7 linked regions of the Homo sapiens genome follow. The protein of the gene in region 1 purifies or fractionates together with the protein of each later gene. This does not show direct contact. Each region holds a gene or a part of one and is shown in the gene's direction. Other genes may lie near its edges.

Region 1 (3,002 bases):
TTTGTTTTCATTTCATGAGTTTGGGCTACAAGAATACTTTGTTTTAGCTCCAGGTAGATGCCATTGAAGGCATTCATGGCTGAAATCAATTCTAACACACTTACCGATGAATTGACAACACTTTGGTGTTTGGTCTTTTTTTTGTTATATTTTGTTTTATTTGAAGGGGAAAACAAAATTGTTAATGGTGACTTTTAACTGCTGAAATTCAAAATTTGATTTTAGTTAGGTTTATGTCCGAGACTAAACTGTGCATGAACCGAAACAAAAAGCAAGTTCATACCGCTGCATTCTGTTCTCTTGTTCTGACGGTTAATTCACTGGACATCAAATTTTCTTTGCCCTAGTTTTCCCCAAAAGAAAACAAAAGCAAAAATAGTTATATTAATGTTGAAAGTGCTTTGAAGTCACTTGATAAAAGGTGCTATGAATAGCAACTTACTGTGTTACTACATTGCCTTTTTGGCATTGGTTGATTTATAATTTTGGTAAAGGATCCTAAAACCCTGTATTCTTTTTCTGTGCCCCATAATGACCAAAAAAGATAAAGAAAATGAGAGTAAGATCAAAAGATCAAACTAAAACATAAACAGTCTCCTTCCTGTCTGCTTTCTTACCTATCTGTTCACACTTTATCTCTTTCCCTTTCTCTCTCTCTCTCACATGCGCGCGCGCGCGCGCGCACACACACACACACACACACTTGCCCCAACACTGAGAAATAATCTTGCCAGAATTCTGGTTTTTATAGTTGTTGTAGTCCGTTTCTCTAAAAATAGTCCTGTTTTCATATGAATCTAAGAGAACATTACCGGAGAAAATAAAGTTACTCATTTATAGTTACTAATAATAAGTTAGTGATTAACTTACCACAATTGGATAAAATATAAAACTATTCTTCAGCACATTTATACCTAAATTAGTGAAGTCCATTTGTGAAGTTCATTTGGCATCTGCAGTTAAGAGTTAACCATGTATAAAATCCCTCCCAAAGAACATAATCATCGTTAGAACCAAATCCTCTTATAAAGAACAAATATAAAAAAGTTTTCTGTGGTGAAGCTATTTTATAGATTTGATTTCCGGAGTAGAATTTTACCTTAATTCACTTAAAGAAAATTAACCATTTTTTGGTCCAACTTCAGATATTTTCTTAATCCAGAAGCTGTGACTGTTCCCAGAAGAAACCTCTTATATCACATTTAAAACATAAAAAATAATTACACTTTCACTCATTCTAATGGGTAAATTGTTGAATTGTAATAAACAACTGTATATTTACAAACAGGTTTATAAGGTATTTGTCTATCAAATTAATAATAAAATAAAACTTACGGGGTCTGCAAGGAAAACTATGAAGGCCACTTAAAGTGGTTCAGGTATCCCTTTGTCTTGTAGGGCATAGCTGTTGGTTTAGCCAGGCTTTTACAGTATTTAATTTTAAAGTATCCTATAACTATCAACTTCCCAGGTTGAAGACGATGTGTTGAGTTTCCTACTGATTGATTGATTCCTGTCCTCCCCAGTGTTTCCGTCACTGGTTCACTAAAACAGTATTTATATAGCTCCACTGGCTCTAAAGCTCTTAGTCCTTCTAATATTTTGGATTTTACAAGTAAAAATGGAAAAAAAATAGAAAAGAGACAATCAAATGCCTGGAGCTTAAAACAAAGTATGTGCAACCTACCATCTCACTTGAAATTTAATAAAATAATAAGTAATTATGTAAATATAACATAGAGTTATAGATTTATATTTTGTTCATAACACATAGTGTAATATAAGTTGTATATTTTCATGTTTTTGGTTTTATGTTATCATTCATGCCACAATAAAAATAAAACAGGAGTTTATGTGCTCTTAAAAAAAAGATGTGGGTTGCCACCAACCTGTTTTTCGTTTTTGTTTTTTGTTTATTTTATTTTATTTTTTTGCATTCTCCTTTTTCAGTATTACTGCCATGCAAGGCACCAATAAAAACAGCAAATGTGTTCTTTACTTATTATACTGTGTTTCTTTTCACAATTATTGTTATGAGGGTGTAATTAGTTTTATTATGAAAAGAACAAAAGTATGGAAATTTAATTTTGTTTTTAATATAAATAATCCCTCTTATTGAAGTTGACTTTAAGAACTAAAGGTTTAATTTTTAGCTGTGGACATTCCCAGAAAGACAGTCAGGACTTGATATAATGCATTTCACTCAGACAGATCTAGCTTCACCATACTGTCAAAAGATACTGTTCTTATATGTAATTGATTCAACACAATTGAAAACCCAACAGTCTAAAGCACCTTTAATATTGTTGTTTTCCCTGGCTGGACACTATCCTTGGGTGGGGGATGGGGGGTTTCTATGCTTTAGAATTGTGCTTTATCCTTTCGTTTGTATAGAAGATTTATAAATTTCAGATCATGAAATTACTAAGAACTATGAATAATTTTCACCTCGCTGGTATCTCATTTTGAATAATGGATATTTCTGAATTGTTTAACATTAGCCTCTCAGTTCTACCTTAAACTTTTTTAGTGAATGTTAAAAACAAGAAGTCTCCTTTCCTTTCAATGGCCATTTTTGCTTGTCTCTTCCACCATAATATGTTTTTCTACCTTGATAGTTCTATATGTAATAGTTTCATTTAAGGGTGTTTGCTGGTTGGTTGGTTGGTTGGTTGGTTGGTTGGGTGGGTGGGTTTTCTAAATAGGTATCAAGACAATGGGTCAGGTAACATTTGGTTCAAATGAATACAAGTATATAAAAGGGTTTATTCTGGAAACACTGCCCACTGTATCCCTTAACAGAAGTATTTTACAAAATCTGGTCCACGGACCACCTACTTCAGAATCAGCAGTGAAAAATGTAGATTCCTGGGCCCAACCCCAGGTGTAGTGAATCAGAATCTCTGGGGATAGAACAAAGCTTTTGCTATTTAACAACTCTAAATAATTCTGCATACTCTGATGTTCCAAAACAACCAGGAGGTGGGGATATTTGTCTCTTC
Region 2 (4,168 bases), on another chromosome or scaffold:
CAACTACCGTTAACTCCCACCCCTAAATGTGCCTTTTAGGCTGTTCAAATAGATAAAAATGCCAGCACAAAGCATCTTGGTGGTCCTTCCTGCCAGGCAGGCATTGTGGTATGCGAGTTCTCAGTGCGTGCACCACCCGCTCGCCTCGCTGCTTGTGCTCACCCTTTGGTCGCTAGAGAGTGCTCCGTATCCCTGGGCATGACCGGAGTCCTAAGATTTCTTCAGCCTGCGGACTGTTTATCCTTCCTTTATATATATGTATAAATTTTTAAGGGTTTAACAACATATTGAAACTGAAATACCAGACAATAATGATAAGGAAGATTGTTTCTTTTTGTTTTGGTGGTGGTGGTTTTTTTTTGTTTTGTTTTGTTTTGATTTTTGAGACAGGGTCTTGTTCTGTCTCCCAGGCTGGAGTCCAGTGGTGTGATCTTGGCTCACTGCAGCCTGGACCTCCTGGGCTTAGTTGATCCTCCTGCCTTGGCCTTCTGAGTAGCTGGGACTACAGATGTGCATCATCACTTGCAGCTAATTTTTTTTTGGGGGGGGGGGTAAGGTTATAGATTAACAGCATCCCAAGGCAGAAGAATTTTTCTTAGTACAGAACAAAATGAAGTCTCCCACGTCTACTTCTTTCTACACAGACACAGTAACAATCTGATCTCTCTTTTCCCCACATTTCCCCCTTTTCTATTCGACAAAACCGCCATCGTCTTCATGGCCCGTTCTCAATGAGCTGTTGGGTACACCTCCCAGACGGGGTGGCGGCCGGGCAGAGGGGCTCCTCACTTCCCAGACGGGGTGGTGGCTGGGTGGAGGCGCCCCCCACCTCCCGAACAGGGCGGCTGGCTGTGCGGGGGCTGCCCCCCACCTCCCTCCCAGACGGGGCGGCTGCCGGGCGGAGACGCTCCTCACTTCCCAGACGGGGCGGCTGCTGGGCGGAGGGGCTCCTCACTTCCCAGACGGGGTGGCCGGGCAGAGAAGCTCCTCACCTCCCAGACGGGGTGGCGGTCGGGCAGAGACACTCCTCAGTTCCCAGATGGGGTCGCGGCCGGGCAGAGGCGCTCCTCACATCCCAGACGGGGCAGCGGGGCAGAGGCTCTCCCCACATCTCAGACGATGGACGGCCGGGCCGAGACGCTCCTCACTTCCTAGATGGGATGGCGGCCGGGAAGAGGCGCTCCTCACTTCCCAGACTGGACGGCCGGGCAGAGGGGCTCCTCACATCCCAGACGATGGGCGGCCAGGCAGAGACGCTCCTCACTTCCCAGACGGGGTGGCAGCCGGGCAGAGGCTGCAATCTCGGCACTTTGGGAGGCCAAGGCAGGCGGCTGGGAGGTGGAGGTTGTAGCGAGCCGAGATCACTCCACTGCATTCCAGCCTGGGCAACGAGCACTGATTGAGCGAGACTCCGTCTGCAATCCCGGCACCTCGGGAGGCCGAGGCAGGCAGATCACTTGCGGTCGGGAGCTGGAGACCAGCCCGGCCAACACAGCGAAACCCCGTCTCCACCAAAAAATACAAAAACCAGTCAGGCATGGCGGTGCGCGCCTGCAATCCCAGGCACTCGGCAGGCTGAGGCAGGAGAATCAGGCAGGGAGGCTGCAGTGAGCCGAGATGGCGGCAGTACAGTCCAGCCTCGGCTCGGCATCAGAGGGAAACTGGGGAGAGGGGGAGGGGGAGGGAATTTTTTTTGTATCTTTTGTAGAGACAGGGTTTTGCCATGTTGCCCAGGCTGGTTTCGAACACCTGGGCTCAAGCGATCTGCCCGCCTTGGCCTCCCAAAGTGTTGGGATTACAGGCATGAGCTACTGCTCCTGGTGTTTTTTATTTTTTAGAAGTTTTTTTCTTAACTCTTCCAGCTCTGCTGTTTACTCTTGACCCATGCTTATTTAATTGATGCTTGAACCAGGTACAGTGAAGTTCAAGTCCATTCCTCACCCCTTAGTAGCTCTTGGGATAGTTAATCTCCTTGGTTCTGAGTTTCCTCATTTATAAGATGTGAACAATAACCTGATTCACGGGGTTGTAACATTTAAAGGACGTCTAAAGCTGGGCATGGTGGCTCCATACTTAGAAGGCTGAGGCAGGAGGTCAAGGCTGTAGTGAGCTATGATCACTGCACTCCATCCTGAGCAGCAGAATGAGATTCTGTCCTTTTAAATTTTTTAAAATATGTTTTTGAGACAGGGTCTTGCTCTGTTGTCCAGCCTGGAGGACAGTATCTCGATCCTGGCTCACGGCAACATTGCAGTCTGGGGCTCAGGTGGTCTTCCTGCTTCAGCCTGTGGAGTAGACTCATGCTGCCATGCCCAGATAATTTTCTGCTTTCATTTTTATAGAGATGGAGTCTCACTATATTGCCCAGGCTGGTCCTGAACTCCTGGGCTCAAGCCATCCTCCTGCCTCAGCTTTCCAAAGTGCTGAGATTACATGGTGTGAGCCACCATGCCCAGGGAGTCTCGCTATGTTGCCCGTGCTGTTCTCGATCTCCTGGGCTCAAGCCATCCTGCCATTTGGCCTCCCAAAGTGCTGAGATTACAGGCATGAGCCACTGTGCCCAGCCTTGTTTCTTAAAAAAAAAAAAAAGTCTGTGTGAAAAATTGTCAACCTGTAGTGAGTAATACTCAGAAGTTTTCATTGATCATGTCCTTTATTTTTTTTGAAACAGAGTCTTGCTCTGTCGCCCAGGCTGGAGTGCAGTGGTGTGATCTTGGCTTGCTGTAACCTCCATCTCCTGGGTTCAACTGATTCTCCTGCCTCAGCCTTCCGAGTAGCTAGGATTATAGGCGCGTGCCACCACGTCTGGCTAATTTTTGTATTTTTAGTAGGGACGGGGTTTCACCATGTTGGCCAGGCAGGTCTTGAACACCTCACCTCAAGTAATCCATCAGCCTCGGCCTCCCAAAGTGCTGGGATTACAGGTGTGAGTCACTGTGCCTGGCCTAGCTGCAAGTTTCTGAGGTCACCCCAAAGCATAGTCCCAGTTTGTCTATGGCTTTGTAGGCCATGGAACACGAAGCCTAGGGTAGCCCAGTCCTAGGGAGGGTGGATGCCATCTACCACATACAACCATTTCTTTCTAATCGTGCATGCCGACCCCCTGAACACTCCCTTCCTTTGGCCCTGCTTTCTCTAGTGCCTCCATCTCCCAGAGTCCTCACATTAAAAAAATAGGACAGGAATGGCCAAGTAAACCTTAAGCCTTATCTGATTAATTGTATAAATGACCCTTCTACCCAGAACCCACTGGAAAATCTTTAAATCTGAATTTGCCACTCCAAAGAGAAAAATGATAGCATGCATCACTGCCTGTTTTAGTCCGTTTAGGCTACTATAAGAAAATACCCTAAGCTGGGTAACTTATAAAAAACAGAAACTGCCGGGCGCAGTGGCTCACGCCTGTAATCGTAACGCTTTGGAGGCCAAGGCAGGCGGATCACGAGGTCAGGAGATCGACAGCATCCTGGCTAACACGGTGAAACCCCATCTTTACTAAAAATGCAAAAAATTAGCCGGCCGTGGTGGCGGGCGCCTGTAGTCCCAGCTACTTGGGAGGCTGGCGCAGGAGAATGGCATGAACCCGGGAGGCGGAGCTTGCGGTGAGCCAAGATTGCGCCACTGCACTCCAGCCTGGATGACAGAGCAAGACTCCATCTCAAACAAAACAAAACAAAACTGAAGAAAAGAAACTTCCTTGTCACAGAGAGTCTGGGAAGTCCAGGATCAGGATGCTGGCAGATTCCATGTCTGATGAGGGCCTGCCTGCTTCCTGGTTGTAGATGGTCTTTTTGCTGAGTCCTGACATGGTGGAAGGGGCCAAGGAGCTTTCTGGGGCTTCTTCCTTATAAAGGGCACTAATCCCATTTGTGAAGTCTCTGTCCTCATGACTTAATCACTTCCCAAAGGCCACCACCTTCTACCACCATCACATTGCAGATTAGGCTTCAACAGAGGAATTTTGGGGGGACACAGATGTTCAGTCTGTATTACCGCCTTAGGTTTGGTACTGGCATATTGGAGGCAGCAGGTGTTTTTCCATTATTTGAGGGATAACAAGATGAAGGTCCACGTTTGCTTTTATTGGTACCAGGTAGACTCACCTTTGGCTGCACTTCTGGTATTCATTAGCAGAGGAACTGACAGCCAATCTCACTCCAGCCACTGG
Region 3 (4,168 bases), on another chromosome or scaffold:
GACCAAGTGACTAATGGGCTAGCAGGCAGGGAGTGTCTTCAGCATGGATCCTCTGGACAAAGGTATGATTTCATTCCCCGGGCTGGACGGAGCAGGATGCCAAGAGATTTCATCATGCTACTCAGAAAGGTGTATGGTGTAAAACTTATGAATTGTTTATTTCTGGAATTTTCCATTTAATATTTTCAGATTTCAATTGATGGTGGGTAACTCAACCCCAGAAAGTGAAACTGTGGATAAGTGAGGACCTCTGTACTATTGAGGATGAGATTCATGGCAGTAAGATACAATCATGGAACTTAGAAGAACTACAGAATTTTCTAAGAAATGGAGTTTTTCAGTTCTAAGCCCAGTAAGAAAAGGAGTAATAAATATTAGGGCTTCACCTATTAAATAATGAAGATGGAAAGATCAGGACCTCTTTTAGCTTGTTCTAATTATAGGCAAAATTTAAAGAGAACTGGCACTTCCCTGGCATGAGAACTGAGTGACAAAAGGCCAGCTACAGAAGCAGCCCTTCTTTCTGCACCTGGGGAGGAGCCTGCCTACTGCTGGTTGGTCCTGTGGGAACAGTGTACCCTGCAACTGCACACTTGAAACTGGCACACTGGAAAGGGGTGAAGGGGAAACTGAGCCGGGATAGGAGAGAGTGGCAGTGTGTAATTACCTGTCATTCTGAATAACTGATACATTAAGCTTTGCTTTACTCTTTGTTAAAATTGGCAAAATAATTGTAAATTGATAAAAAAATTTTCACACCCAGTGATGCTGATTTCCGGCTGTTAATACAATAAAAAAGTTTAAGGGTTAAGTGGAAATAGCCTCAGAGGACTCTCCCCCTTTCTCTAAAAGTACATTTTACTCTTCCTTTTCTCTCTGGCACCTCCCAATATCTGCTTTTTTAAGCCAGCTCATTAGCATAGTAGTGACTGATAGAGCTGATGAGTTGCGAGCCCTGAAGTGTGCTGACTATGGTTGGGGCTGACGGCTTGTCAGCCCATCCGTAGCCGACTTTCACCTTCTGTCCTACTTCAGCATACTGTTCCTATATTTAAATGAAAAATCTGACCAAATGTATAATAGTGAGAATTTATATATATTTTTAACAAATAGACTGTTGGTAAAAATTAGCAGCAAGTCCATTACTCGTGGTAGAAAGTGATGTTTAGATGCAGGTGGAAGCAGAGAAGAGGGGGAAGGAAGTGCGGCAAGGATGCCGAGGGCCTTGCAGGCAGAGGGGACAGCTGTGTGGTGGAATCACTAGAAGGTGCTCAGAGGTGTGAAGTTATCCTGGGCAGTGAGAGAAGGAGCTGCCCAGGGACAGGTGAAAAACTGCTGATTGACACTGATGAGCCAGTTAAAATAAAACAAAAGCTTTTAGTGATTCCAGTTCATGGGATTCTTCGTGTTCCAGCCTTCAGGAGCCTGGCCACAGGGGTAGAGGAGTCAGAGGCTTGGGTATGTCTGGGCCCTGTGTCAGGCGTCTCCTGATACAGGGAGGTGGCCAGAGAGTGAAGCAGGGTCAGGAGGAGGTAAAGGTTCTGTACCAAGGGTTACAAGAGAAGCCGTTTTCTGTAGTGATTTTGCATTTTGGCTGAGACAGAAATGTAAGAGTGAAAATTTTTCAAGGAAATACCGGAGATGGAAAGGGAAAGTGTGTATGTAATGTGACAAGTGTCCAGGTTCCACATTCTGACTTGGGGGTACACTACCATTTTTATGTCTAAGTCAGGGAAAAGTTGTAACCCAAATTTAGTAATTTTGATAAGATTTCTTATTATATGGGTTGAAACTCCCCCCACTGCGTTTTTATTATGTCGTGAATAAAATGAACCCTTGCAGAAGCTTTAACTTGGTTTTCTTGAATATTGAAATCCCTGATGTGGTTGAGTGAACTTACAGAAAAATAAAAATACTAAAATAGGGTTGTGACCTTGGACCAGTGATTTAATGTCATAAGTTTTAGCTTCCTCACTGTGTGTTGATGAGTTCATGGGGCCCTGGTATCGACAGTGGTGACAGTGTCATACCCAGGAATTCCTGGACTCTGCCAGTGGACCAGGGGCCTGAGTTCCCTTTGGTCCTCATTTTAAGGTGGCTGCTTAGAAAGCATTGGTTCTTGACTGGCCCTTAAGTTCTGCAAGAATCCCTGCAGTTGTCAGTCACTGTACGGTAGGGAGTGTGAAGGAGCGCTTGCTCAGCTATAAAAGTCTGTGAGTCCTGGCAAGTAGAAAGAATGGCCGTTCACATTGCTAGTACCTTCCTGTTTTGTCACCTAGACCGTGAGCCTTGATTTAGAACCCACTTCCCCAACTCTAACCCATGCTGAGACTTTGTTCTTAAGTCTTCTAATCTGGTTCCCACTAGGCATCAAGACCTACCAGAAAAGTGAGAAAATGAACATTTAATTCTGTCAGTCTCTTTGTGAGCACCTCCCAGGTTCCAGACTTGGCAGACAGGCCCACACCTCATGCCAGCTGTTCCTCGGGGCTCCTTCTCCGTGACCCAGTCCTGCTGTCACCTCACGCCCAGTGCGTGCCTGGCTGCACTAGTGCCAGCCAGATTTACCAGTTTGTCTTTCAACTGGTCTGTAATTTCAAGAACATCGACAGACCCACTCTTTGTGAGTTGGCTTGGACCTTGAGGATGCGCTAGTCCAGTTCACTTTTGAGATCATCCCCGGCAGGCGGTGCTCCTCCTCCTGAGTGCGTGCTTCTGTGGGTTGAGGATGTGTTCATTGCTGGGAGAGTGTTAGAAACCTCCTCCCTCTGTTGAATTGAAATCAGCCCCATCCAAACTCTTACCTAGGTGGTTGGGCAAACCATCATCAAACCTGCTTGTGGTTGATCTTGACTCAGTTACATGAAGAGAGCTATCATAACCACACTTAACGTTGGAAATGGTTTTTCATAGTTTCCAGAGGTGTTATTAATTTTGTATTTGTAAGCTAAAATGTCATACCCATTTTTCATTTGAAGAGTTTGCATTTGAGTGATTTTTACTTTTCACAACTATTATCTTGTTTCAGGCTGTGATATTGTCTCTTTTTGGTGTCTCAGTGACATCATTTTGATCCCTATGTTTTTCATTTCTCAATGCAAATTCTTCTAATGAATCTTACTGGTTCCTTTTGTATGTATCTGTTTGAAACCCCTCCCGTGTGCCTCCTCCCCCGAAATAAGTGTAGTCAAGTGTGCATTGAAACAGCTTAAGGAAACAGGCTGATTAATTGGAAAAGGATTTTTATTCAGAACCACCATTGCCAATTTGCGTGGGTTGGAAACAGTGTGATCAGTCAAACCTCTCTGCAAGCAGAGGCAGGCAGTTGTTTCTTTTATTCCGTGTCATTCTGAGAAGCATCATTTAAACATTTTTTTGAAATAATGCAGAACCTTGATTGCTAATTTATTGTCATTCAGAAAGTTTTGAAGATTATTTTAAAACGTTTTGAAATGCTTGCACAGCTACTCTGCAACTTACGATGGGGTTACATTAGGATGAGGCCGCTGTAAGTTGCAAACATCGTAAGTTGGACCATTGTAAGTCAGGAACTGTCTGTATATGTCAGAATCATATTGATATACAAAACTAAAGATGGAATGCTAATGCTATACTTTATAAATAGAACATTTAAGTTACCTGGAGGAATACAATATTATTTTGGAGGAGATATATTCATGTTCACACCATGTGTTTCATTGACTTCAAACAAGAGATGAAAATATTTTTAAAACAAGAGGAAAAAACTTTGGCAGTGGGAGAAAGCAGGCAAGCTCATTGAAACTCCTCATGCAGATGTAGTAAGTAACAGTATGTAACGGCGTGTGCTATTAGAAGTAATTTTTCTAGCATATTATTAGCAAAGTAAAGATATTAAATATTCAAGAATATTGGCCAGGTGTTGTGGCTCATGTCTGTAATCCAAGTACTTTAGGAGGCTGAGGTGGAAGAATCATTTGAGCCCAGGCGTTCAAGACCAACTTGGGCAACATAGCAAGACCCTGCCTCTACAAAAAAACTAGCTGGATGTGGTGTCATGCTCTGTAAGTCCTAGCTACTCAGGAGGCTGAGGTGGAAGGATCCCTTGAGCCAAGGAGTTTGAGGCTACAATGAGCTGATTGCGCCACTGCACTCCAGCCTGGGTAACAGAGCAAGACCCTGTCTCTCT
Region 4 (4,168 bases), on another chromosome or scaffold:
TAAGATAAGTAAGTAAAAGTTTGTTGGAGAATGATAAGTATTAAGGAAATACTTAGGAAAGAAAAAATATAGGACATTGAGGGAATTTGCCATATGGGGGCCTGTGAGAAGAGCATTCCAGGTGGAGGGAATGGCTGGTCCAAAGGCCTGGCAGACATGTGCCTGGTATGTGCAAGGAATAGCATGGAACCCAATGGGCTGGAAAGGAATGAGCGAGAGGGTGGCAGGGGTTGAGGGTAGAGAAGGGAGCAGATCATGTCAGCCCTTATGCCTTTGCTTTTGGGAAGATGGGAAGTCATTAAAGGATAAGGGCAAAAGAAGGAGGCCAATGAGGAGTCTACTGCAGTCATCCAGGCCAGAGATGATGTGATGGAGAAGGGGTTGTGAGAAGACATTGGACTCTGGACAGATTTTGTTAGAATAGGTAGAGCTGACAAGCTTGGCTGATTGACTTCTGTGGAATACGAGACAAAGAGAGATATAACGAATGGCACCAAGATTGTTGGCCTGAGCAGGGGAGAAACAGAATTAACATGAGATGAAAGGGAGGCTGCCTCAGGGTTGGGGATTGGGAGCTTTATTTTGAACATGTGCAGTTTAATATTAGACATACAAGTGGAGATATCAAGAAGGCAACTTTTGATGGAAAGAATGCAAAATGCAAAATTATTTGAAAAATACTGCTGAGTCAATAGTAGCTCTTCCAGCACAGTCTTAAAGTAGAACCGTTACCATGTTTGTTAGGGGAAATATATCTACAAAATATTCTGACCTTGAAAAAGGACCTTGTGCTGGAAAAGTTTGGAAATAGAGATGAGTTCAAGTGAAAATTTTAGTGGCCAATAAATATTATTTTCCTTTTCTGCTTCTCCTATTCCTTTAGTACATGTTGATTTCAAAATTTGCAGCATTATCAGATTTTGAAATCTTAATTTTAAACTTGAGATTTTTTTCCCTCTAATCTTTGAATAGAGCTTTCTGGTAAGAGATGCCTAACACATGGCAGAATTGTGTTCTCCCAAGTTATTTTATTTTGGAAGGAAATTAGAATGTTCACTTATTACATGTTCACTTGTGATTTTTTGTGCATCGAACCTGTTCATGTCATGTGGTGCTATTTGAGACGACAAAAGAATTGGAAGACAGAGGTTTTTGCTATTATGGAATCTATAATGTGGGGTTAAGAAACAGATGGTATACCTCATGTGGAAAGATTGCTCCTTCATTGTTATTTTAATTAGCTTAAGTACATTTAATTTTACTAGCATCCATTTGTGATTGGCCATTTCAACATCTGTCCTTCTCAGTCTTATGCAGGGAAATATGTGCCAGCCATTGCACACCTCATCCATTCCCTCAACCCTGTGAGAGAGGTGAAGATCAACCTGAACGGAATTGCTATTGGAGATGGATATTCTGATCCCGAATCAGTAGGTTTCTCCTTCTGACTTTCTATTTTGTCTCTTAGGGGGATTAAATGCCTTTTTATCAGATGGAAGGCTCCTCTTAGAGGTCTAACTTTTGATAAGGGAAACACCAGTTGACTTTATGACTTAAATCTCCTAATTTTTACCAAATGTTTCAACGTATCAATTTACTGTGTCAGCTTACATTGGCTGTCAGTGCAAATGTGTGTGTGTTTGTATTGTGTTGTGTTCTGTTGTGTGTGTTGTGGGGTGTATATGTGTGTGTGCATGTAATTATCCTACTTGGCTAACCAGCACAATATTAACAATTACAAAGGATTATTTCACCAAGCAAATGGGCTTCCTTAAGGTCTCTTTCTCTCCCTTTGTCACATTGATGTGTGTCTTTTTTGTCCTCAGATTATAGGGGGCTATGCAGAATTCCTGTACCAAATTGGCTTGTTGGATGAGAAGCAAAAAAAGTACTTCCAGAAGCAGTGCCATGAATGCATAGAACACATCAGGAAGCAGAACTGGTTTGAGGCCTTTGAAGTGAGTTCTGGGGGCCCTGTGCTGCCCTTGAGCAATTAAAACCATCTGGGGAGGGAGGGCGGGTGAGCAGGAACACCTTGGTGCTCAGGCATTTTTTTGTTAAGAAGGTATATCTGTTATTCCATTGGAGATCGGGAGGCGAGTTGAGTGGCCTCATAATGAAGAAAAGGACTGTCTGTGTTCCTTTGAATTTACTTTGGCTATATTTTAAGCCTGAGATCATCTTGGAGTGTTTATCTAACTGTGTCTTTCATTAACCGTTTTGATTTCTTTAAATGCTGTGGAGGCCCTCAAGGCAGACTCTATCATATGGAAATCAGAAGAAAGGCAACCCAGGAAGTAGAGGCATATGCTTCACCATCTGCTCTAAACCATGTAGAAGAGTTTTATATCCACAAACAGGGTTTCAGCTGGGAGAAATGACCACAGTGTGTAACAGATGACATGTGACACACGTGTCAGGAACAAAGATTATAAAGTGTAGTAATTTGAAACTCTTACAAAGGGCCATTGGTATTTGTGCATATCCTTTCATTGCTCCCCTAAAATTAAACTTGAGAATCAATAATTACGTTCTTCACTCTTTTCTTTCTCAGTTATTTAAAATGTAAGAATATACTAAATATTAGGATACAGGAAGTTGGGTTTTTTTTGTTTTTTTTTGCTTTTTTTGCCAATGCAGACAGAGCCATGTGTAAACAATCTCCCTGAGGGGCTTTTTGCCGTATTTACTATACAGCCATCATGTTTGACATGGTAGTAAATGAGGCAAGGTCTGAATTTCGAGGGCTTTAATTTGTTTGTTATTAGACACATATTCTGTAACAGTATATCTAATGTCGTTATTGTTATTAAAGCAGAAATCTGATATTAAGTCTTAAGGGCATTGCAGATCAGCCAGTTCAGATCAAAATAGGAGACATGCAACCTTGGAGAAAAGGGTAGAGGATAATACAAAGTTATTTTTCATTTTACAAGTAGGGTGTTGGGACACTATCAGAAATCCCCCAAGGCAGTGACCGCCCTTGCCGTGAATTCTGATAGCAGCTAGCTGTGCAAATGGATGGAGCAAAGGGAGTCCTGAGCCATCCTACAGAGCTCCACCAGGCTCTCCTTTCTCTGTGTCAGGACACTAAATGTGGCTGCAAAGTGTGGATTCAGAATTTCTTATGCAATTGTAAACACAAAGGAAGAGGGGTCTCCTGGGGCACATGTAGGATCATGCTTCCACTTGCAATGACAGTATTTTCAAGGCTTTCTGCTGTGGTAGTCACAGAGGGGACGAAGGAGTGAAACTTCAGTATTTAGAATTAATACCAAATTTTATGTGGCATGAGACCAATTTGCAATTGAAACATTTGATATGTTTTTAAAGAAGCACACAGGATAAAGCAATTGTCAAGAGCAAGAGCATTTGAGAGGCCCATATTTAGAAAAAAAGCAGAAAGATGACTGGTACATAATGCAGCAGGCTAAACACCTACAGGATTAGTGAAGCTGTAGAAAAGTTCAGGTGTGTTGTGTATTCAGAGATAATGAGAACATGACCCACGAGGTGAGAATCTCTCCCAAACCGGATACGTCAGAAACCGGAACCCCAAGCAGGTAAAACGTTTGAAGGCTTGGAATGTCTTTTTGACCATTGGTCCCGTATCTTGAGTGATGAATTAAAACAAGACCTTTGCTTTTTCAAGGAAAATAGATAAAATGATACTTAGGACAGTAAACAACTTGTGGTTGAAATGTGTTTCAGTGACTGCAAAGGAAGACTCCAACAAATCCTGAAACCCAGGGGAATATAAATGTCAGAATCTCAAGCCTAAAATGATAAAGCCTGTTTGACGCTCTGATCCTTTAAAATGATTTAATTAATCAAAGAGTAGTAACTCAGAGCTGGAGAGTACTCTGGAGATAGGTCATCTACTGTCCCTATGCATTTACATGCACACACACACACACACACACACACACACACACACACACACACACACACACACACACATTTACTGGTGAGTGGAGAGGATGCCGAGCCCCAGGGGATAGCAATGAATTGCCGAAGGATACACAAATAGATTGTGGCAGGCTGAGGACTGGAATTGCTTCCCCCATTTCCACCACAGTATTTATCCTATGGTAATTTTCAGGCATTCTGTAAAAATCCTGGATCGTCTTAGATATTCTGCAAGATGTGAAATGACTGATCCTCTGTC
Region 5 (4,168 bases), on another chromosome or scaffold:
CACCATGCCCGGCTTTTTTCTTTAATGTAGAGACGGGGTCTTACCATGTTACCCAGGCTGGTCTCCAACTCCTGGGCTCAAGTGATCCTCCCGCCTTGGCCCCAAGTGCTGAGATTACAGGTGTGAGCCACTCTGCTCAGCCTGATTTTTTTTTTAAACAAGCTTAAAAAAAAAAAAAAGCAACCTTAGAGCCTTTCTGAGATTCTTAGTGGGGACCTTGGCTTCCAAAAGATTAAAAACCACTGGTCTAGACAGAAGTCAGAATGTTCTTTCAACTACATAACTTCTCCATTAAATAAAGTGGAGTGGTAGCAACATTTTGACGATTGGTTATTATGACCACCTCTCTTACACTTAGAGTCTTTTTTTCCCCCCCAAATTTAAAGTCATTTACATTAGAACCTGGGGATTTCAGCGGAATATGGATTAACTAGTGAGTAACTGGAACATGTGAAGCTATTCTGTAAAGTTAGGTTTGAGTGAAATGACAAAACAGGGTGCTTTGGATAGAAGGTAAAGAATGGAGGGAGAAGAGGCAGTGGCTGTGAAGAATATGAAGAGGTTAGTATTCTCCCCCAGTTTGGCAGAGGCTGGCCATCTGTGAACTGCCCATGCCTTCTAGAATGTCGGAGTTTTGGTGTGTGATGATGCGTCTGTATATCATATCTTTCTAGTCTTCCATTGTGCTTTCATTTGTTAGTCTTCTCTTGTTTTGCCATTTTTCTACTCCCTCACATGTGCTTTTGCCCTTCTTAAAAATATTCTTCGTCTGTAATCCGAGCACTTTGGGAGGCCGAGAGACCAGCCTGACCAATATGGTGAAAATCTGTCTCTATTAAAAATACAAAAATGAGCCGGGCGTGGTGGCAGCGCCTGTAGTCCCACCTACTCGGTAGGCTGAGACAGGAGAATTGCTTGAACCCTGGAGGCAGAGGTTGTGGTGAGCAGAGATTGCGCCACTGCACTCCAGCCTGTGTGACAGAGCGAGACTCTGTCTCCAAAAAAGAAAAAAGGAAAAAAATATAATTCTTTCTCTAGTTTTTCTTTTTCCCGATGGCTTCTGTTTAGTTTTTCTATGTTCTGTCAAGTCGATTTCTTATTCTGCAGCTGATTCCTACTTCTCAAAGTCTACTTGACAGCTCTTATTTTTATTTATTTGTTTTTTAGAATAGGGTCTTGCTGTGTTGCTCATCAAATTTTTGGGCGTAAATGATCCTCCTACCTCTGTTTCCTGAGTACTTAGGACTACAGGCAGGCACCTTTGACAGCTGTTAGTTGTTTTTTCTGCCCTTTACATCTATACTTCATACTTCTGAGTAACACACATATATACTTTTGTTATTTTTAATTCCCTTTCTCCCATTTTAGACATTTTCTTTTCTTTTCTTTTTTTTTTTTTTTTTTTTTTGAGACGGAGTCTGGCTCTATCGTCCAGGCTGGAGTGCAGTGTCGCGATCTCGGCTCACTGCAAACTCTGCCTCCGGGGTTCACGCCATTCTCCTGCCCCAGCCTGTAGCTGGGACTACAGGCACCCGCCACAACACTCGGCTAATTTTTTAGCATTTTTAGTAGAGACGGAGTTTCACCGTGTTAGCCAGGATAGTCTCAATCTCCTGACCTCATGATCCGCCCGCCTCAGCCTCCCAAAGTGCTGGGATTACAGGCGTGAGCCACCGCGCCCGGCCCCATTTTAGACATTCTGTACTGGCTATTATGCTCCTCCAAAACTGTCCTCAGACACTTTGGTTTGCCCCTCATTCTTTCAGTACTGTTACTGCAGTTTTTGTTTAAATGAATAGTTAACATTTATATAAATAGAAGGTAAATATTTTTGCATTTGAATTGCCCTTGTTGTGCAGTTTTTTGTTGTTTTTTTTATTATACTTTAAGTTTTAGGGTACATGTGCACATTGTGCAGGTTAGTTACATATGTATACATGTGCCATGCTGGTGTGCTGCACCCACGTTTTCCTGGACTGAATAATTGCTTTATTTTTTGGTTTGCTTGTATGTTGTGTTACTACTTGCTTACTTAAACTCAGCAATTTAAACCCTCAAATGTGGTCAAACTGGTCACATAATCCCATCAATTTCAGCTTAAAACATTGATTGATTGATTGATTGTCTGTCTACCTGGAATACCCTTACTAACCAACTTCTCCAACCCGGATTGGTTTTTCTTCCTCTTTGCTACACAGCTGTGCTCTTGGGACTTCCCTTTATCACCAGTTTGAGAATTCCCTTCATCTTTTTTCTGAGTTAGACCCTTTGTTTCTTGTATCTCATGTCCTCTTCATTTACTTTCTTTGTTTTGGTGTAGCATAGTCTCACTTGCTTTGAGGAAAAGTGGATGAGAGGTTTTTTTGTTTGTTTTTGTTATGGGACAGAGTCTTGCTCTGTTGCCCAGGCTGGAGTGCAGTGGCATGGTCTCAGCTCACCGCAACCTCCGCCTCCCAGGTTCAAGTGATTCTCCTGCCTCAGCCTCCCGAGTAGCGGGATTACAGGTGTGCGCCACCATGCCCGGCTAATTTTTTCTATTTTTAGTAGAGATGGGATTTCACCATACTGGTCAGGCTGGTCTAGAAACTAATGGTATGTCTTTAAAACATCTTTACTTAATTTAGTTGATCATTTGGTTATCGAATTCTGAGTTTCAAATAATTTTTTTTGCAATTTTGAAAGCATTGCTCCATTTTCTAGAAGTTCTGTTGTTAGGAGTCCCATGAGATTCTTGTTCTTGGTAACTTAAAGGTTTTCTGGAAGTGTCCTTTCAATTGGGAAACTCATTTCTTTCAGTTCTGTAGCATTTCTTGTATTATTTCTTTGACCATTTCTTACCCTTTTTTTTAATGATGTTTACCTGAAAGCTGGAGTTTCTCTAATTTTTCTCTTATTCTCCTCTTTTGTTTGTTCTGCCTTTTGAGAGATTTCCTTACCCTTATGTTCCAGGGGAAGAAGATTGGGGAACTCATGGTTCAGTATCTAGACTTTTCCTCATTGTCCTGTATAATCACGGCCTTCACCCTTGTTGGGACTCCACAGATTTGGAGCTGATCAGATGGGTTTGTTGAGAACAGCAGCTTTTTTGGAGGATTTTAGGGGGAGGGAGATTCATTTGACTGTGCAAGATGGGCGACAGGGTGAGACTCCGTTTGAATTAAAAAAAAAAGAGAGAAATTTAGAACTGCATAATGAAAAAGTAGGCCACAAATATTAAGTTTTGGACAATTACAATTACATCTCTATCTTACTGTGCAAGATAGCGATGATGTGGCATCTCTTAGGGTCTTACTGTTCCTGTTTTCAGCCCTGCATCAGTTCTTGATATTTGGCAGCTTAAGTGAATTCAGGTATTTGCTTATAGTGACATCTGCTGTCATGTAAAGAAGTACTGCTTGCATCAGATATTGTCCTGTTTACATAACATGGGCTGTGCTCCTTTCTAGCTGTATATCTTTAAACAAGGCATTTGTCTGCTTGAGCTTCAGTTCCCTTGTAAAGTGAGCAGGTTAGAGGCAAAAGATCATATAGAAGAATAATTTGTAAAGTTGTTTAATTATCTTAAGATTGTCTACTTTAATAACATAGTTGGAAGCAAAGAAGGTAATGGAATTATTTTTCTATTATGTTTTAACATAGTTGGAAGCAAAGAAGGTAATGGAATTATTTTTCTATTATGTTTTGGCATTGTACCTTGAATCTATTTCTTCATTTTGAAAAGGGGGAACTGGCCGGGCTCGGTGGCTGATGCCTGTAATCCCAGCACTTTGGGAGGCGGAAGAAGTCAGATCACAAGGTCGAGAGATCGACACCATCTTGGCCAACATGGTGAAACCCCATCTCTACTGAAAATACAAAAATTAGCTGGGCATGGTGGCGTGCGCCTGTAGTCCCAGCTTGTACCCGGGACGCAGAGGTTGCAGTGAGCTGAGATCGAGCCACCGCACTCCAGCCTGGCGACAGAGCAAGACTCCATCTCAAAAAAAAAAAAAAAAAGGAAGGGGGGAACAGGACTTGTTCCTTTATGTGCTGTCCTGACTGTTGTGTATTATTTTTGTTAAGATTGCTATAGTTCTTTTTTTTTTTGAGACGGAGTCTTGCTCTGTCGCCAGTGCTGGGATTGCAGGTGTTAGCCTGGCATTGAGCAAGGTTTTGTAATTTAAGCATA
Region 6 (4,350 bases), on another chromosome or scaffold:
TTGTTGCACAAGTTCAACGATGTGGTGTGGCATGTGAGCTGGTCCATCACAGCCAACATCCTGGCTGTCTCTGGTGGAGACAATAAGGTACATACCCATTCCCCGTGGCATGGTGGACACAGCCTGTTGGTCTTCACCCCGCCCACTAGAGAGGGCACTTGACATTCCCATCTGACTGCAGGCTGGGCAGGAGCCTTAGCCAGGACTGCGTTTTGAGTGTGCCTCTTAGTTACATCATTAATGTCACAGCCCCTGAGGTAGTATTAACACGTCCCCCTTTCACAGATGAGGAAAGAAGCTGACAGAGGCGATTTGACTTGCATGGGGGTCCCAAAACTATGAGGTGGCAGAGCCAGTCAGGCCCATCACCCTACTAAGCATTTGGTCACCTCATGGTGATGTTCAGTTAGCTGTGCCAAAAAGGCAAGTGTATAAGAACCCATAAACAGAAGAAGATTGGGGATATTTTTTGTCCATAACACTGAAAAGGCTTTTTAAAAACCTTTAGAGTTTATGAATACTTGTTATGCTGGTAAGAGGCAGGTACACAGTGGGTGCACTGGAAGAGTTTGCATTTTGCAGCTGAAAGAGTTCTGGAGACCAGCTGCTCAGGGACCCAAATGTACTTCACACAACTGGACTGTGCAGTTAAAAGTGGCCAAGGTCATTTTATGTGACGTGTATTTTACAATTAGAAGGAAAAAAGCTACCCGCAGAAAGGAAGCAGTAACAAGCCATAGCCATCTGCCCAGCTGAATTCCCCTATAAGACAGAGGATCTCTAACGCCGCAGGGTCAGTTCCACGTGGAGTGGCTGTGCTGCGTTTTCAGGCACATCTGCTCTGCGCCTGAAGTGCGAGTTGGTCTGGATCCTGCCAGCCCTTGCTGCTTCTCTCCCTTGCCTATGTTGGTCTTTTACTGTTTCCCAGTGGCCACTTTGGCTCCATGTCTTACCTTTCATTTGTGTGGCTCACGGCACAACCAACACAGGCAAGGCAGAGAAGCAGCTGGTCTCCAGAACTCTTTTCAGCTGCAAAATTGAAACTCTGTACCCATTAAATAACTCCCTTCCCCATTGCCCCTCCCCAGCCCTGGCAGCCACCCTTCTCCTTTCTGTCTATGTGAATGTGACTGCTCTAGCGACCTATCTAAGTGGAATCATACAGTATTTGTCCTTTTGCGACTATGTCACTAGCAGTATGCCCTTAAGGTTCCTCCATGCTGTACGTAGCATGTGTCAGAATTCCTTCCTTTGTAAAGCTAAGTAGTGTTGCATTGTATAGACAGCCCACACCCTGTTTCTACACTTATTCCTCCACCAAAGGGCACCTGGGCTGCTGCCACCTCTTAGCTATTGCGAATAGTGTGGCTGTGAACATGGGTGTGCAGATCTTGAGAGCCTCTGCAGGCGGCTTTTCTGGCCGAGGGTCCCTTTCATCTACAGTGGTCCCAGAAAGATCTAGCAGGCCCCCTCTCAAAGCCATATTTCTAGTGAGTGCCAGAGTCAGGACCAGAACCCAGGTTGATGGCACTCAGGGCAGACCAAGGGACCCAGATTGCCTCAAGCAGGCCCCCAGTGACTTTTTTACAAGGCTGTAAGCAAGTGCCTGGCTGTGCACGCAGTGTTGTGGGGCCCGTCACTGTGCATTTAGGCTTCTTGCTCTTCTTTACAAGCCTGTTTCCTTTCGCTGTCTCCATAGCACCCTTACCTAAAGGACTTAGTATGTTTTCAATCCCAGAGCATTCTGCAGTGTGTTGAGTGAATAGTTTGTCCCTAAAGCAAGAGTTCTTAAAATCAAAATCGTTATTTTCATTTTTAATCAAACTAATATATGTACATAGGTTTAGATTGTTTTTGTTTTTTGTTTTGTTTTTTGAGATCGAGTCTCGCTCTGTCGTCCAGGCTGGAGTGCAGTGGCGCAGTCTCGGCTCACTGCAACCTCCGCCTCCTGGGTTCAAGCGATTCTCCTGCCTCAGCCTCCCCAGTAGCTGGGAGATTACAGGTGGCTGCTAGTTTTTTTGTGTGTATTTTTAGTAGAGATGAGATGGGGTTTCACCAGTTCAGGCTGGTCGCGAACTCCTGGCCTCAGGTGATCCACCCATCTCAGCCTCCCAAAGTGCTGAGATTACAGGCGTGAGCCACCATGCCCGACCTAGACTGATTTTTTTTAATGCAGCCTCCTAATTTTCTCTCCAGGGGCAAACCTTTTCAGCTCTTAGCTATTTCTTATACAGTTTACTTCAGTGTAGAAACAACATATTGAACTGTTACCTTCCTCTACCACAGTAGTTTTCAAACTGCAGTGTTGTTAAACCTGTTAAAACAGATTGCCAGCCCCACCCCCAGAGCTTCCTAATCAGTTGTTCCAGGCCCCAAGAATCTGCAGTTGTAGCAAGCTCCCAGGTGACCGATGCTCTGCTCTGGTCTGGGGACCACACTTTGCGAACCCTGCTCCCCGCCACCCCATATCCTCTCGCTGTAGCTCTGTCACAGTTTGCTGAAAACAGTATCCTGTGTTGACATCATCATCCACAGCTGCTGTTATTGTTACTCCTTTTTTTCTGTGAGTTTTTATTCCTGGACTCTCATTTTGGTGAGATTTCAGTGGAGGAGGGACATGCTCTGTTCACCCACAAGCCTCTGGGCAGTGGTTCTTGATGAGGATGAGGCTCATATTTAGGGGACAGCAGAGGGAAGGGCACAGACCCGTGATAATCTGCTTGTGCACTGACTCGCAGGTGACCCTGTGGAAGGAGTCAGTTGATGGGCAGTGGGTGTGCATCAGTGATGTCAACAAGGGCCAGGGCTCCGTATCAGCATCAGTGACAGAGGGCCAGCAGAACGAGCAGTGACAAGACAGGTGGGGCCTGGCTCCCCACCCGCCAGCTCCAGGACTGCCCCTTCCTGGGCCAACTAACCAGACAACTGGGAAGAGCCCCCAACTCCAACAGGATTATTTTCCCAGGAGGAGTTACAGATGCAGCCACAGATTGATCATCTGCCTTAACGTGATCGGAGATGCTTTGTAATCTACTGTCCAGCTGAAAGCACTCATGTTACGAGGAAGAAACTACAAGTGATGTTCAAATCTATTTTGGGTCATTTTTATGTACCTTTGGGTTCAGGCATTATTTGGGGGGTTTTGTTTCCAAAGGAACTAAATAAAGTCATATTGCTTATAATTCCTGCTGCGTTATCCTAACCACCCCACCCCACCAGCTCAGTTTGACTCTTGTCGGTCCACGCACTAGAACAAACTATTCACAAAGGCCACGGCTGTGATGGCCTGGCTTAACCCCACGCACAAAGGTGGCTTGTCACTGCATGAGCATCTCTGATTCAGTTTATACTGAAAGCACCATACAGAGCACTGGACTCAGCCTTTGGTGACAAGGACTGTAGCCCTGGGTCTGCTACTTACCCTCTCGGTACACATCCTGTTCTGCAGAATGGGACTAATACAGTCTGCCCTACAGGATGGCTGCAAGATTCAAACACGCTAGTGCATCTGGTGACCTACAAAATGCCACGCAGGTGCAACGTGGTATTAACCAAACACCAATAGTTAAGATGCTGGCCCAGAAAGTGGGCACGATTCATTTAGTTTATTGACCCTGTCAGGAAAAGGAGGGCCCCATGATGGGAGACCTAACTGACCCTGAACCAGGTATCACCTTTCAGCGGAGGCCCTGTGACCCTGACAATCGCCATAGCCATCAGTGAGCCTGCGGTGAGCCAGACCCTACACTGGATCTTTCACACATTCGCTAATTTAAGCAACACGAGAACCCCGTGTGGGTGTACCCAGTTCACTGATGAGGAAGCGCTCAGAAGGTAGAAGCCCTGCCCAGGACTGTGCAAACGTAAAGCCAGCGTCAGGGCCTGGCCCATCTCAACAGTTACTCCCCACTGTAGAATCAGGGTGGGAGCTGGGGGGCTCTCCTCAGCTGTAATACAAGGATGTTTCTCACACCAAACCTTTGTATGAATAGATTCAGATAAAAGGTCAGCCCACTTGCCTCAGGCCCCCTAGTCTGCCTACTTCTTGTCCTTCCCTCCTTTTTCAGCAGCAAAATCCCCTTTAAAAAAAAAAAAAAATCTTTGATCATACTATGTAACATAGAAGAAAGTGAAACTGCTTTGGTTAAAGGTGAGGACAGAGAGGCCATGGCCTGGCCCAGTCAGCCTCCAGTCAGTCCACAAAGCCCAAGCCTTCTGAGACCAACATGAAAACAGCTGCTTCCTTCCTTCCCTTACTCAGAAAAGCAAAGCCCAGGAAGGCACCTTCACGTGCACTACTGAGTGTCGAGTTCTACAGTGAATCCTTGAACCATATCCACGTCTGCCTCC
Region 7 (4,889 bases), on another chromosome or scaffold:
TTCACAATGTAACTGATATTTGTAGGTAGTGCATGTAACAAATCAAAAGATTTAACAAACTCGACTGGTGAAATAAGAAGGTAGTTGGAAGCCCAGTTTATAACCTAGATATTTAGTGAAAAAATAAATATAAAATGATGTTCCCTTTCTAATATAATTATATATTACTTGATGGATTTACTAGTAAATGCTGAATGGCCTGGAATGAAAGCAGTTTAATCTGCAGAGAGATCAATTTGCTGTTGCACTTCACACTGTAGCAACCCTGCAATAATAAAACAAACCCTACAGTAATAATCATAGCAATTGAGAGGAAATAAAGCATTATTCTTTTACCTTGGACAAGCAACAGGGTCAAGAAATTCACAACCTCAGAAGTTTTTTTAAGAGGAAAAAAAAGGTGTCACGTGTTCGCTGCCCAACAGACTCAAACATCCTATTACTCCTATTACCGTTATCATCATCTTTACTGAATATTCCTACTACAAGACAGGCAGACATGTGACATGCGGTGAAGGTTCTACTTTACCCACCACCAATCTCCACAAGCACTCTCATCTCAGGGTGCCTCGGGGAGGGCAGAGGAGGAATACTTGGGCTCAAAAGTCGTCTTTGGACCACTTTCAGATCAGTCTGGTGGAAACGGTAGTGTGAGCGCTATGCTACTTGAGACTGCGTTTGAAAATCTCTTTCACGTTCCCAAATCAAAGCCACTTTGAGGTTTAAGAATGATAACCACAGGTGAATGCCTTACTCTTTCCACGAGCCAGGCCTTTCCTTTGCATGACGCAGACCGGCGGCTGAGACCCGTCCTGAGGCCCCGCCTTTCATTCGGTTTATGTGGCCCCGCGCAGTTCACGCAGTTTTCTCCGTTCTTAGGCAACCAGCTCGTGGGAAATTCACTCCAGAAAAGCGTGCGCCATATCATTATTTTGCGATTCAACAAACTTTTTCAACTGTTGTTCAGGAACTAGATTCCAGATAGATCTTGTTGTGTTCGGCCTTCCTAGAAATTCCTTTTCCAGAGGAAGAAGATCCGGGTTGGGAAGAGTGCGTGACTATGGCCCCGGGCTCATTGAAAGACTCCTCCCCACAAAAGTTTAGGGCTGATACTAAACGAAGCTATGGAGCCATGCCCACACAAATACTCCCCCTTTACCCGAATTGTGGGGCCTGGACTGTGAAGGCCTTCGCTGCAAGAGCGGGCACTGGCGAACTTCAGTGCACGCCGCGGCCGAGAACGGATGCAGGGCGGGGGATGGCTGAGCCGCCTGATCCTTGCAGAGAACCTGCAGGGGCCCTCGGAGGGTATCCCCTGCGTCCAAGGGAGCGCCCCTCCTTTTCAGCACTCGGGGGAACTGAGGGCGACGTGCCAGCCCCGCACTCAACTTTCCCCTTCCCTGCAGGCACAGAGTTGGCCGGCGGGGGCAGAGGAGGAGCTGGGTCTCCACTGCGCCCGTTTAAACCTGGCCAGGGGCTGCGTTTCCTCCCCCCACCCCACGACGATCCTTTCTTAGTCTTCGCTTTTCAACCCAATCGTTAATCATTCGGAACGCGCGGGCGGGGAGCGGCGAGGAGGGCGAGCTCGGGGTTCGCCGCCGCCGCCGCCGCCGCGCGCGCGCGCTCAGGAAGCGGTGTGGCTGTCACCCCCTCCCGGGCCTCCTCCCCCCTCCTTCCTGCTTTGCTCCCCCTCCTTCCTCCCCTCCTCCCCGCTCCGCCGCCCGCGCCCAGTGTATCTACTCCCTCCCCACGTCACTCGCCAGCGCGCCATGCAAATCACCGCCGCCGCCGGCTCCCATTGGCCGCGGCGCGCTCATTTAATGGCAGCCCGGGCCCGGCGTATGGCTGCTGGGCCCCGCGCGCCGCCGGCCCCGCGTGCGCCTCCGCTCCGAGCGCACGGCCCCGGGCAGGCAGCGGGCAGCCCATCCCGGGCTCGGCGGCCCCGGCTCTCCGGCCCTCTCCGCGAGCCCGCGCTCCTCCCGCTGTCCCCGGGCCCCTCCCTGGCTGCACCGTAATCGCCCCCTGCAGGCCCCCCTGCGCCTCCCCCCCCCCGCCACTGGCGCCTGGCTTCCCCCGGGCACCTGGGACCAGCACATGCCCAGCGCACGCGGCGCGCCGCCCTGCTAGAAGTTGCAGCCTCCGAGTTGGAGGCCGCTGAGGACCGAGCGCAGGAGGAAGGAGACAGCGCGCAGCGGCGGCCGGCGAGGAGACAGCACACCCCGGGCCGGGCCCAGCGCACCGCTCCCGGCCCCAAAAGCGGAGCTGCAACTTGGCCACGACTGCACCTGTTTGCACCGCTCCGCCGAGGGCGCCTGGGCTGCGGTGGCGGCGAAGACGGCGACCCCGACCGTCGGCCTCTTTGGCAAGTGGTTTGTGCATCAGGAGAAACTTTCCACCTGCGAGCCGAACCGGCGCCGAGTGCGTGTGTTTCTGCCTTTTTTTGTTGTCGTTGCCTCCACCCCTCCCCATTCTTCTCTCCGCTAGGACCCCCCCGCCCCCGTCTCACTCCGTCTGAATTCCTCTCCGTCTCCCTCCCACCCCGGCCGTCTATGCTCCAGGCCCTCTCCTCGCGGTGCCGGTGAACCCGCCAGCCGCCCCGATGTACAGCATGATGATGGAGACCGACCTGCACTCGCCCGGCGGCGCCCAGGCCCCCACGAACCTCTCGGGCCCCGCCGGGGCGGGCGGCGGCGGGGGCGGAGGCGGGGGCGGCGGCGGCGGCGGGGGCGCCAAGGCCAACCAGGACCGGGTCAAACGGCCCATGAACGCCTTCATGGTGTGGTCCCGCGGGCAGCGGCGCAAGATGGCCCAGGAGAACCCCAAGATGCACAACTCGGAGATCAGCAAGCGCCTGGGGGCCGAGTGGAAGGTCATGTCCGAGGCCGAGAAGCGGCCGTTCATCGACGAGGCCAAGCGGCTGCGCGCGCTGCACATGAAGGAGCACCCGGATTACAAGTACCGGCCGCGCCGCAAGACCAAGACGCTGCTCAAGAAGGACAAGTACTCGCTGGCCGGCGGGCTCCTGGCGGCCGGCGCGGGTGGCGGCGGCGCGGCTGTGGCCATGGGCGTGGGCGTGGGCGTGGGCGCGGCGGCCGTGGGCCAGCGCCTGGAGAGCCCAGGCGGCGCGGCGGGCGGCGGCTACGCGCACGTCAACGGCTGGGCCAACGGCGCCTACCCCGGCTCGGTGGCGGCGGCGGCGGCGGCCGCGGCCATGATGCAGGAGGCGCAGCTGGCCTACGGGCAGCACCCGGGCGCGGGCGGCGCGCACCCGCACGCGCACCCCGCGCACCCGCACCCGCACCACCCGCACGCGCACCCGCACAACCCGCAGCCCATGCACCGCTACGACATGGGCGCGCTGCAGTACAGCCCCATCTCCAACTCGCAGGGCTACATGAGCGCGTCGCCCTCGGGCTACGGCGGCCTCCCCTACGGCGCCGCGGCCGCCGCCGCCGCCGCTGCGGGCGGCGCGCACCAGAACTCGGCCGTGGCGGCGGCGGCGGCGGCGGCGGCCGCGTCGTCGGGCGCCCTGGGCGCGCTGGGCTCTCTGGTGAAGTCGGAGCCCAGCGGCAGCCCGCCCGCCCCAGCGCACTCGCGGGCGCCGTGCCCCGGGGACCTGCGCGAGATGATCAGCATGTACTTGCCCGCCGGCGAGGGGGGCGACCCGGCGGCGGCAGCAGCGGCCGCGGCGCAGAGCCGGCTGCACTCGCTGCCGCAGCACTACCAGGGCGCGGGCGCGGGCGTGAACGGCACGGTGCCCCTGACGCACATCTAGCGCCTTCGGGACGCCGGGGACTCTGCGGCGGCGACCCACGAGCTCGCGGCCCGCGCCCGGCTCCCGCCCCGCCCCGGCGCGGCGTGGCTTTTGTACAGACGTTCCCACATTCTTGTCAAAAGGAAAATACTGGAGACGAACGCCGGGTGACGCGTGTCCCCCACTCACCTTCCCCGGAGACCCTGGCGACCGCCGGGCGCTGACACCAGACTTGGGTTTTAGACTGAACTTCGGTGTTTTCTTGAGACTTTTTGTACAGTATTTATCACCTACGGAGGAAGCGGAAAGCGTTTTCTTTGCTCGAGGGGACAAAAAAGTCAAAACGAGGCGAGAGGCGAAGCCCACTTTTGTATACCGGCCGGCGCGCTCACTTTCCTCCGCGTTGCTTCCGGACGGCGCCGACCGCCGGAGCCCAAGTGACGCGGAGCTCGTCGCATTTGTTATAAATGTAGTAAGGCAGGTCCAAGCACTTACAAGTTTTTTGTAGTTGTTACCGCTCTTTTGGGTTGGTTTGTTAATTTATACAAAGAGATTACCACCACCACCCCCTCCTTCAGACGGCGGAGTTATATTCTGGGTTTTGTAAAACTTTATGTATCTGAGCATTTCCATTTTTTTTTTTGGGTTTTGTATTATTTCTTGTAAATGCATTGTGAAAAATTTTATTTTCGGCGTTGCAATGCGGGGAGGAGAAGTCAGATTATGTACATAGTTTTCTAAAAAGCCTTTCTTCTAAAAACGAAAAAAGACCCCCCACCCAAAATGTTTCGAGTCAACAAATTTAAGAGACAGAGCCCATTTTCTCCATAAATTTGTAACATGCTATTTTTATGTGCATGTTTTATGAGTTCAAAATGCAATGAGGAAATCTGACAGGGAAATTATCTGTATGAACTAAAAGTAAGGGAACCCCGGGGAATGGGAGGACAGGATTTTTCAAGGAACCTTTTTCAATGAAAGAGAAGGAAGTTAAAACCTATAGGTTATTTTGTAGAGCTGAGTGTTAATACGGGCCGAGAAATAAAAGTATCTTCTGCTCCGGCTGTTTCACTGCGGACGGCTGGGGCTGCTGCGCGTTACCTTGCTGCAAGCGGGGCGCCTTCCACCTGGCTGG

The links.
Region 2: the proteins of SOX5 (region 1) and POLDIP3 purify together in Homo sapiens (affinity purification with mass spectrometry; one large-scale study listed by BioGRID and IntAct). This does not show direct contact.
Region 3: the proteins of SOX5 (region 1) and RBM33 purify together in Homo sapiens (affinity purification with mass spectrometry; one large-scale study listed by BioGRID and IntAct). This does not show direct contact.
Region 4: the proteins of SOX5 (region 1) and CPVL purify together in Homo sapiens (affinity purification with mass spectrometry; one large-scale study listed by BioGRID and IntAct). This does not show direct contact.
Region 5: the proteins of SOX5 (region 1) and RGPD8 purify together in Homo sapiens (affinity purification with mass spectrometry; one large-scale study listed by BioGRID and IntAct). This does not show direct contact.
Region 6: the proteins of SOX5 (region 1) and SEC13 purify together in Homo sapiens (affinity purification with mass spectrometry; one large-scale study listed by BioGRID and IntAct). This does not show direct contact.
Region 7: the proteins of SOX5 (region 1) and SOX1 purify together in Homo sapiens (affinity purification with mass spectrometry; 2 studies listed by BioGRID and IntAct, with this or other methods). This does not show direct contact.

What each region holds. Positions count from the first base shown.
Region 1 is NC_000012.12:23,528,500-23,531,501, reverse strand, and holds the end of SOX5 (transcription factor SOX-5), read left to right. Parts: 3' UTR 1-1,998; downstream 1,999-3,002.
Region 2 is NC_000022.11:42,604,638-42,608,805, reverse strand, and holds part of POLDIP3 (polymerase delta-interacting protein 3), read left to right. Parts: exon of another isoform or gene 1-71; intron 72-4,168. UniProt on the Homo sapiens protein: Is involved in regulation of translation. Is preferentially associated with CBC-bound spliced mRNA-protein complexes during the pioneer round of mRNA translation. Contributes to enhanced translational efficiency of spliced over nonspliced mRNAs.
Region 3 is NC_000007.14:155,731,531-155,735,698, forward strand, and holds part of RBM33 (RNA-binding protein 33), read left to right. Parts: intron 1-4,168. UniProt on the Homo sapiens protein: RNA reader protein, which recognizes and binds specific RNAs, thereby regulating RNA metabolic processes, such as mRNA export, mRNA stability and/or translation.
Region 4 is NC_000007.14:29,069,563-29,073,730, reverse strand, and holds part of CPVL (probable serine carboxypeptidase CPVL isoform b precursor), read left to right. Parts: intron 1-1,265; coding exon of another isoform or gene 1,266-1,307; coding exon 1,308-1,430; intron 1,431-1,826; coding exon 1,827-1,958; intron 1,959-4,168. UniProt on the Homo sapiens protein: May be involved in the digestion of phagocytosed particles in the lysosome, participation in an inflammatory protease cascade, and trimming of peptides for antigen presentation.
Region 5 is NC_000002.12:112,426,656-112,430,823, reverse strand, and holds part of RGPD8 (RANBP2-like and GRIP domain-containing protein 8), read left to right. Parts: intron 1-4,168.
Region 6 is NC_000003.12:10,299,763-10,304,112, reverse strand, and holds the end of SEC13 (protein SEC13 homolog), read left to right. Parts: coding exon 1-87; intron 88-2,738; coding exon 2,739-2,852; 3' UTR 2,853-2,965; coding exon of another isoform or gene 2,966-3,007; 3' UTR 3,008-3,182; downstream 3,183-4,350. UniProt on the Homo sapiens protein: Functions as a component of the nuclear pore complex (NPC) and the COPII coat. At the endoplasmic reticulum, SEC13 is involved in the biogenesis of COPII-coated vesicles.
Region 7 is NC_000013.11:112,065,060-112,069,948, forward strand, and holds the start of SOX1 (transcription factor SOX-1), read left to right. Parts: upstream 1-2,089; 5' UTR 2,090-2,599; coding exon 2,600-3,775; 3' UTR 3,776-4,889. UniProt on the Homo sapiens protein: Transcriptional activator. May function as a switch in neuronal development. Keeps neural cells undifferentiated by counteracting the activity of proneural proteins and suppresses neuronal differentiation.